2 linked regions of the Homo sapiens genome follow. The protein of the gene in region 1 interacts with the protein of each later gene in a biochemical or structural test. Each region holds a gene or a part of one and is shown in the gene's direction. Other genes may lie near its edges.

What was found.
Region 2: the proteins of MAP2K2 (region 1) and LMO7 interact in a test that uses a peptide from one of them, tested with the Homo sapiens proteins (one large-scale study listed by IntAct).

Annotation. Positions count from the first base shown.
Region 1 is NC_000019.10:4,093,123-4,096,622, reverse strand, and holds part of MAP2K2 (dual specificity mitogen-activated protein kinase kinase 2), read left to right. Parts: intron 1-1,173; coding exon 1,174-1,235; intron 1,236-2,124; coding exon 2,125-2,170; intron 2,171-3,500. UniProt on the Homo sapiens protein: Catalyzes the concomitant phosphorylation of a threonine and a tyrosine residue in a Thr-Glu-Tyr sequence located in MAP kinases. Activates the ERK1 and ERK2 MAP kinases.
Region 2 is NC_000013.11:75,634,889-75,639,129, forward strand, and holds the start of LMO7 (LIM domain only protein 7), read left to right. Parts: upstream 1-1,441; 5' UTR 1,442-1,769; coding exon 1,770-1,838; intron 1,839-4,241.

The DNA of each region.
Region 1 (3,500 bases):
TGTAGGTCCCGGGGTGGCTCCTGCTCCGTCAGTCCCCATAACAACCCAGTGAGCCACAGTATGAGGGTTTCCACCGCCCAGATGAGTAAAACAAGGCACAAGGAGGGACGCGGCCTCCTTCCAGGCCTGCAGCTGTCAGGGAGGCACAGGACTGCACCCCAAGGTCCTGTTGGCCACGTGACCAGGCCGGGCCACCTCCCTGGGCCTTCTGTGGGTTTCTGTGTCTTTGGTGGCCCTTTGGAGCTGGGGCAGAGAAACGGGCATTTGAGCTGCCTGCAGACTGGGCTAGGCCTGGGGTTGGGTGGCGAGATGATGACGGAGCCAGGTGGGGTGGCCCTGGTGACCCAGCTCTCCCTGCACCTAGCAGCCACACCCATGCCCAGTGAGCACATCCCCCGACCTCTCCCCCGCCTCTTCCCGCCCCTGCCCCTGCGCGGGAAAGGCCTGCCCCTGCCCTGCTGGCACCGCTTACACGGCCACTCCCGCTCCGGGGACGTGTGTCAGGCCAGGCTCCCCAGTGCTTGGGCTTAAAACTGTGGACCCAGTTTGGCCGGGCACGGTGGCTCAGGTGTGTAATTCCAGCACTTTGGGAGGCCACAGTGGGTGGATCACCTGAGGTCAGGAGTTCGAGACCAGCCTGGCCAACCTGGTGAAATACCGTCTCTACTAAAAATATAAAAATTAGCCAGGCGCAGTGGTGGGCACCTGTCATCCCAGCTACTCAGGAGGCTGAGGCTGGAGAATCCCTTGAACCCCGGAGGTGGAGGCTGCAGTGAGCCAAGATCACGCCATTGCACTCCAGCCTGGGCAACAGAGCGAGACTGTCTCAAAACAAAATAACTTTGGATCCAGATGTCCCTCTGTGGGGCCCAGTCCCAAAGCTCATCCTTCAGCCAGTGACACTGGGGAAGGAAGCAAGTGACGACACTCGAGAGGTTGTCCTGTTGATAAAAGGGGGACGCACCCCACTCTTTCCCTCTAAGCAGCCGTGACTCTCAAACGAGAGCTTTCGGGAGAAGGCCACCTCTGACAGGGTGCAGCCCAGTTGGCATGTGGTGTCGGCCAGGCCTGCAGGGTGGGTGACCGGACAGGACAGTGAGGGGTAGAGAGGGCTGCAGCCGAGGGTCCCTGACGATGCCCAGGGCTGACCCCACCCTCTGTTCTCCTCCACAGCCACCTCCTAAGCTGCCCAACGGTGTGTTCACCCCCGACTTCCAGGAGTTTGTCAATAAATGGTAGGTGGAGCCGGGCTGCCCACACCCCTGGCCGGGACCCAGATGTGCCACTCCTTCCGGGTCCTGGGTGGGGCCCGTGGCCCAGCCTGCCCATCCAGAATCCCAGTGCAGCGTTAGGCAGGACTCAGCCCAACGGGAAGCCAGATTCCTTTTCCCAGAGCTGTGGGGCTGCAGCTCCCGGCTGCCATGCCATCCTGTCCGTGAGCCCAGGGGTGAAGCAGGATTGCAGGCCCTGTGCACATGACGGTGTCCCCAGCTCACTGTCTGCAGCAGGAGAAGCCTCTGTCTGGTCCCCGGACCCCTGGTGTGCTGACTGTGGGCTCCCCGGGATCCGCCCGCAGGTTCTGGGAGGGTCGCCAGCCCCACTCCATTCTCCTGCCCCCAAGCACCCAGCAGCACCTGTGGCGTGGGCTTCACAGGCATGTGCCGCAGACCACGGGGAAGGAGCTGCGGACACCCCGCTGCCCACAGGGCCGGTCCATGTGTGTGAGCTCGGGACGCCGTGGAACGGCACCGCACTCCTGGTGCCGGAGTTGCCCCGGGCCCTTGGCGTGCGCTCCGGCGATGTTGCCCCGGGCCTGGGGTTTTATTAGACAGTTAGCTGGGGTTGCGTCCAGGCTTCTGACCCACCAGGCGGGGTTTCCCACCCTCTTTCCCTCTCACCCTCCCGCTGGGGGGTGTCCTGCCCCTGGCACCAAAGTGCAGAGGTGGATCCCTCGTCCTCTGCCAGGAGGCAGAACAGAGCAGCCACTCTGTGCCACTCTCTCTGGTCGGAGAGATCCAGGCCCCCTCCGACCACGGCCCACACGCGGGTGCCCCGGGGCCACCAGCTGACTGCCCTGTCTTGTCTCCTCCACCGCCTCCCGGTCCTGCCTCTTGGAACCCCCAGCCTCATCAAGAACCCAGCGGAGCGGGCGGACCTGAAGATGCTCACAGTGAGTGATGCCAGCGGGTTCTGGGACCGGGAGGGTGCAGGCTGCCACCCAGGCCCCAGGAAATAAGGCTGCTGGGCCTGGCCCTGCCCGGGGAGCCAGCACCTGCGACCAGGATGTGGGCAGGCCGGGTGTGCCAGGCCACGCCGAGGACCCTCTGTGGGTCTCTCTCATCCATGAGAGAAGCCATCCTGGGCTGGCTGCGGGGAGCAGAGGGTGTGTGCGTGGGAACAGCTCTGGGCTCTGAGCTCCGCCGCTCCTGCCTGGTGCTGGTCCCGCACCCACAGGATGAGACCCCGGGCTTCTTTGCCCTCATGAGAGGCTGGAGGCAGCTCTCAGCCCCCCAGGCTCCTTTCCCTGCAAACTAGAGGGTGACCATCCCTGTTCTGCACACTGGCAAGCAGGTCCCCCGAGGCCGTGCGTACTTCGGTGTCCCCTTAAACCCCCATCCTCTGATATCCTCGGAAGCCCAGCTGTTCACCAAAACTCGCCTCCCCAGCGGGGACTACACCCTCAGAGGAGGGCCCCGGGCATCATCCTCCTGCCCTCAGCCCAGCCTGCATCCCGAGTGCTTTCCCATACCACAGCCACCGTCAGCGACCTTCAAACCCCTCGACAGCTGATTGGCGGATTGGAGATGCCACCCCCCTAGACAGCCCGTTACTTTCTGTGCCTGTAAGAAAAGAAGAGATGCCAGCTACAGACACCCAACCGGGTGCCTTCTAATACTGGAATGTGGCTTTCAGTTTTGTTTTTTTCTTGAGAGTCGGACAGAGTCTCACTCTGTCGCCCAGACTGGAGTGCAGTGAAGCAATCTCAGCTCACTGCAGTCTCAGCCTCCCAGGCTCACACAATTCTCCAGTCAGCCTCCCAGGTAGCTACGATTACAGGCACCCGCCACCACACCCGGCTAATTTTTGTATTTTTAGTAGAAACAGGCTTTCACCATGTTGTCCAGGCTGGCCTCAAACTCCTGACCTCAGGTGATCCACCTGCCTCAGCCTCCCAAAGTGCAGAGATTACAGATGTGAGCCACCGCACCTGGTCAAAAAAATTTTTGAGATACAGCCTTGCTCTGTCCCCCAGGCTGGAATGCAGTGGTGCGATTGTAGCTCACTGTAGCCCCAACTCCCGTGCTCAAGTGATCCTCCCACTCAGCCTCCTGAGCAGCTGGGGCTACCGATGTGTGCCACCAAGCCCAGCTAGTTTTTGTGTGTGGGTTTTGTTTTTCCCCGCAAAGATGAAGTCTCACTCTTGTCACCCAGGTTGGAGTGCAGTGGTACGATCTCGGCTCACTGCAACCTCCGCCTCCCAGGTTCAGGGAATTCTCCTG
Region 2 (4,241 bases), on another chromosome or scaffold:
CCAGCTGCTCGAGAGGCTAAGGCAAGAGAATTGCTTGAACCCAGGAGACGGAGGTTGCAGTGAGCCGACACGGTGCTACTGCACTCCAGCCTCGGCAACAGTGAGACTCCATCTCAAAACAAAACAAAACAAAACAAAACAAAACAAAACAAAAACAAACAGAAAGTAAATACAATTTAAAAAATTAAAAAATAAAACCCTCCAGCAGAAAAGGTGATACATAAGGCAAAAGGCAAACAGTTGTTAAATACAGACGCTAGGTTTTAGATAGTATTCTACTAGTCTCTGCTCTGTATCTGACGTTTTTCTTCATAAAAACAACCAGAAAAATAAGAACAAGAGTTTGCTTTCGTTTCAGCAGAGTAAGAACCGGTCTTTGTCTTCCGCCAAAGATGAAGCCATCAACCTGTGGCCTGGATAGTGCCTCAGGAGCGTGGAGTGAGGGACCAGGGAGCTCAGACAGATGAGTAGGCTCCTTTGTGGAGACCTGATTTGAGCACTGGTGTGAAAAAGACCCGCGCAAGCCGACCCGTGTGCCTCCCGCCCCGCCCCCAACCCCCCGGCCCTGCACACCTACCCAGGGCCGCGGCGGATACCGCATAACCTGCCACCTCGCTGTCCCCTGAGTGTCCTCAAACCACGAAGGGTGGGAATTTTGACGCTCACCGCGAGGGCGATCATCAAACGGCCTAAACTGGGCTGAGCGGGCGGGAAGTGGGGAATGCAAGGAACCCTCCAGCTTGCTCGAACCCTCAGCCGCGAGCCGGGGTGGAGGGGCAGGGACCCTCCTTCCACCGCACCCACCTGGAAGCCGGGCGGAGCGGGGCCGAACTCCGCCGGGGGGAAGCGGCAGCACGTGCCAAGGCCACGACCCTCCTCTGCCGCCGGGAGGGCCCGGCCGCCGCAGGGGGCGGGGAGCGTGGGAGGGGACGGCGCTCACCTGGCGGCTGGGCCGGATCGCGGCGGGAGAGCGGGTAGCGGGCTCAGCTGGCCGGGGCTCAGGTGAGGGCGGCGGGCCGCGCTCCCCAGCGGGGGAGGTTTCTTGGCCGGGAAAGGTACAATTGTGTGCAGCTATTTCTGGTATGTCAAGCGGGCCGGGCGGCCGCGAGCCGGGAGGGGCGCCGCTCTCAGGGGCCCGGGAGAGGGCAGGGGCCAGGCGGGCGGGTGCGGGAAGGATGCGGGCGCGGGGGCGCATCCTCTCGGGGCGGAGCCGCGGGCTGTGCGGGAACCCCAGCGGGGCCCGGGCCGCGGCCCCTGGCGGACTGTGGCATCTCCCGGGCCAGACAGTCTGACCACAGAGGCGGCCGCGGCCGGGAGCCCGGGGAGCCAAGGGAGGGGCAGACGGAAGCGGCGACTCGGCGGGCCCCGGGAGGGCGGTGGGGTGGGCCGGGGCGGGGCCACCGCGGGGAGGACGGCGGCGGCGCTGCGACTTTTGAAGTCCAAACTGTCGTCGGGGCTGGTGCCGCGCGCTGCCGCTGGGCACCCGCTTCGCTTCCCGCGTCCTGCCTGACTGCCCGGGTCCCCGCGGGCCTTGGGTCGCTTTCAGGAGTTTAGAGAAAGCCAGGTCTTCACGTTCGTGTAGGTTCGAGACCTTAACGAACTGCAGAGCGCAACAAAGGGAACTAGAGCCCCGGCGCCTTCGCAGCCGGAGCGGAAGCCGGAGTTGTGGGAGGCCCGCGTGCCCTCCCCGCCCGTGGGGCCCAGACGCGCGGGGACAACCCCTCCCCTCCACGCATCCCGAGTCTCTCTCTCCCTCCCTTGTCCTAGCCATGGAAGGGCTGGAGGAGGCAGAGGCCAACTGCTCCGTGGCGTTCGCTGAGGCTCAGAGATGGGTGGAGGTGAGTGCCTTTCACTGCTTTCCCTTCCGCAGGTGTTGACTGCCTCGGGGCGGTCGTCGCGAGGTGACTGCAGCCCCAGTCACTCTGCACTTTAGCCTCCTTCGGCGACCCAGCCGACGTGAACAAGCTGGTTTGCTTGTGCACTTTTGGGGACTCTGCGGGTTCTGCCGCTCCTGCATCTTATGTCCCGCTTAGATTGGCGCTGCCCTAACCCCCGCCCCCCGACGGTGTCACTGGCTTCCTAGGGCAGAGGTGGGCGTTCGCCTGCCGGCATCGCGCGTCCCGGAGGAGCAGCGCAGTCCGCCCTGGCTCGCCCGGGGCGTCTCTGCGGGGCACAGCCCAGAGCGCGCGGTGCAGAGCTGGGCCAGGGCTCTCGGGTGCATTCCCTCGGGGTGCCTAGAAGTGGGGATGCTCACCTTATACCTGAGAAGCCAGTGTATTCAGTGTGGAGGGGGGGAGCGGAAAAGAAGGGTGGGTGGGAGGGCAGGTGGAGGAGGTAACACACCGAAGGCCCACCTGGAAGGATGATTTCTCTGGGGCCGCATCCAAGCCCAGGGGGTAGGGGCCGGGGCATGTGCTTTTTCATTTTCGGCTTTGATGAGACTGAGATCCTAGGATCATTCGCTGAAGAGCTGTTACCCTCCCAGCTGTGCCTCACAGACAAGATCTTCCATTCCCTTCTTTCACCCTGAAAAAGAGCGGGTCTCTTCATTAACGCCTTGGGGCTACATTTATCTGTAGAAGGTTAACATCAGGACTTCTAGCCGTTATTCCACTGGACGCAAAAGATGACTTTTAAAACGAGGCAAAAGTCTTCCAAGCAGATGTGAATCAGGAACAACTGCTGAAAATTGAGGCGTGCACAAGCCCTGCAGTCATTTAGGAGTTATTGATGCCACGTGCTGGTTTAGTTAACATATTTAAAACTTCGAATTAGGCTTAAAGATTATTCCACGGAAAAAACTACATGTTTAAGAATTCCAAAGCGAACGATACTTGAAAATAATGTATTTTTCCTTAAAGAAATACATGTATGTGTGTGGAAAGAAAGAATAAATTACATTTCTTACGCTAAATAAAGGAATGTGAAATGTGAGTAGCATTAACCACGGGACAGTAGGGAGGTCTAAGGAATGAGCTTTTAGTGTCTTTTTAGATTGAAACTTTGAGCTGGTCTGAAGGTGACTTAGAAAGATGTGAAGGGAGGGGCATGGGAAGTTGAGAGAAGAATAAACGCTGTATTTTGAATTGAAATGAGAGTGGAAAAATTCCAGCAATATAGTTAAGAGAAATAACTTCCCTCATTCATAAACTTTGAAAAGCCAAGACTTCCAACTGTAATTTTCCATTAGCAGTGTGTGTTCTGCATAATTTTAGAAAACAAACTTGCCATTTTGTGTTTGAGTGTTGGGGATTGAAGGAGGGAGAAGGGGAGACGTGGGGACATGTTTTGGTCATACATGGCTTCTGTGTGGAGTTTGCATCTGCGTGCTTTGTATTTGCTTCAGGAAACATGAATAGGAATGATTCCACACCCTTCCCTTTTTTTTTAGTATGCACATTTTGGAAAACGATGAATTCCTTTTTTGTCCCTGCTTGCTCATAATTATGTAGGTTTTCTCCAAGAAATTTGTATGTAATGAATGGGGGGAAAGTGTATTGTGATAAAAGATATCATTGCGCATATTACATGTGGTCTGTTTTCACTCTCATCGCAGTCTATGTAAAGGTGTTTATCAGCAATGATTTGGCACCTCTATAATGTATTTTGTTCATCGTTAGCAGAGAGCTGGATCTTCCTAAAGGTACTGTCATATCCTTTTAATATAGTTAATGAAATTAAAATTTTTTTTCATCCCACTTGGAACAAGGCAGTATGTTTGCCTTCATTGTGTATATATGAGTAATTTACATGTTCAGATACTTTTAGTATACTCTGGGCATTTGAAATGACCACAGTGTGCTCACTGTTAGGGCTATTTTGTTTCTCCAGTGTCCACATCTATCTCTCTTGTCAGCTTTGCCTTTGCCACCAAAGCACATATTTTAAAATATTGTTCTTGCCAAAAGAAGCAGGATGAATGACTCTGTCATCATCACAACCTCTTTAAGAACCCCTAATCTGAAGATAAAAGGTTGATTCCAATGTGTATTTGTAAAGTATTCTTTCCCCTGCTTGCTGATAGTCTTGCTACATTTTGCCCTATTCCTTTACACATTACTGAAATATAGGAGGGTTTTTAAGTGTATATATTGTATATGTATGTACATATATACATATGTATTATAATATATGTTCTATCTGTATTACATATATATTCGCAACTGCAGCTTTGAATACCCCAAAGTCAACTCCAATAACCTTGTAAAGTTTTGAATGATGACTGGACTCCATGTCAGCAT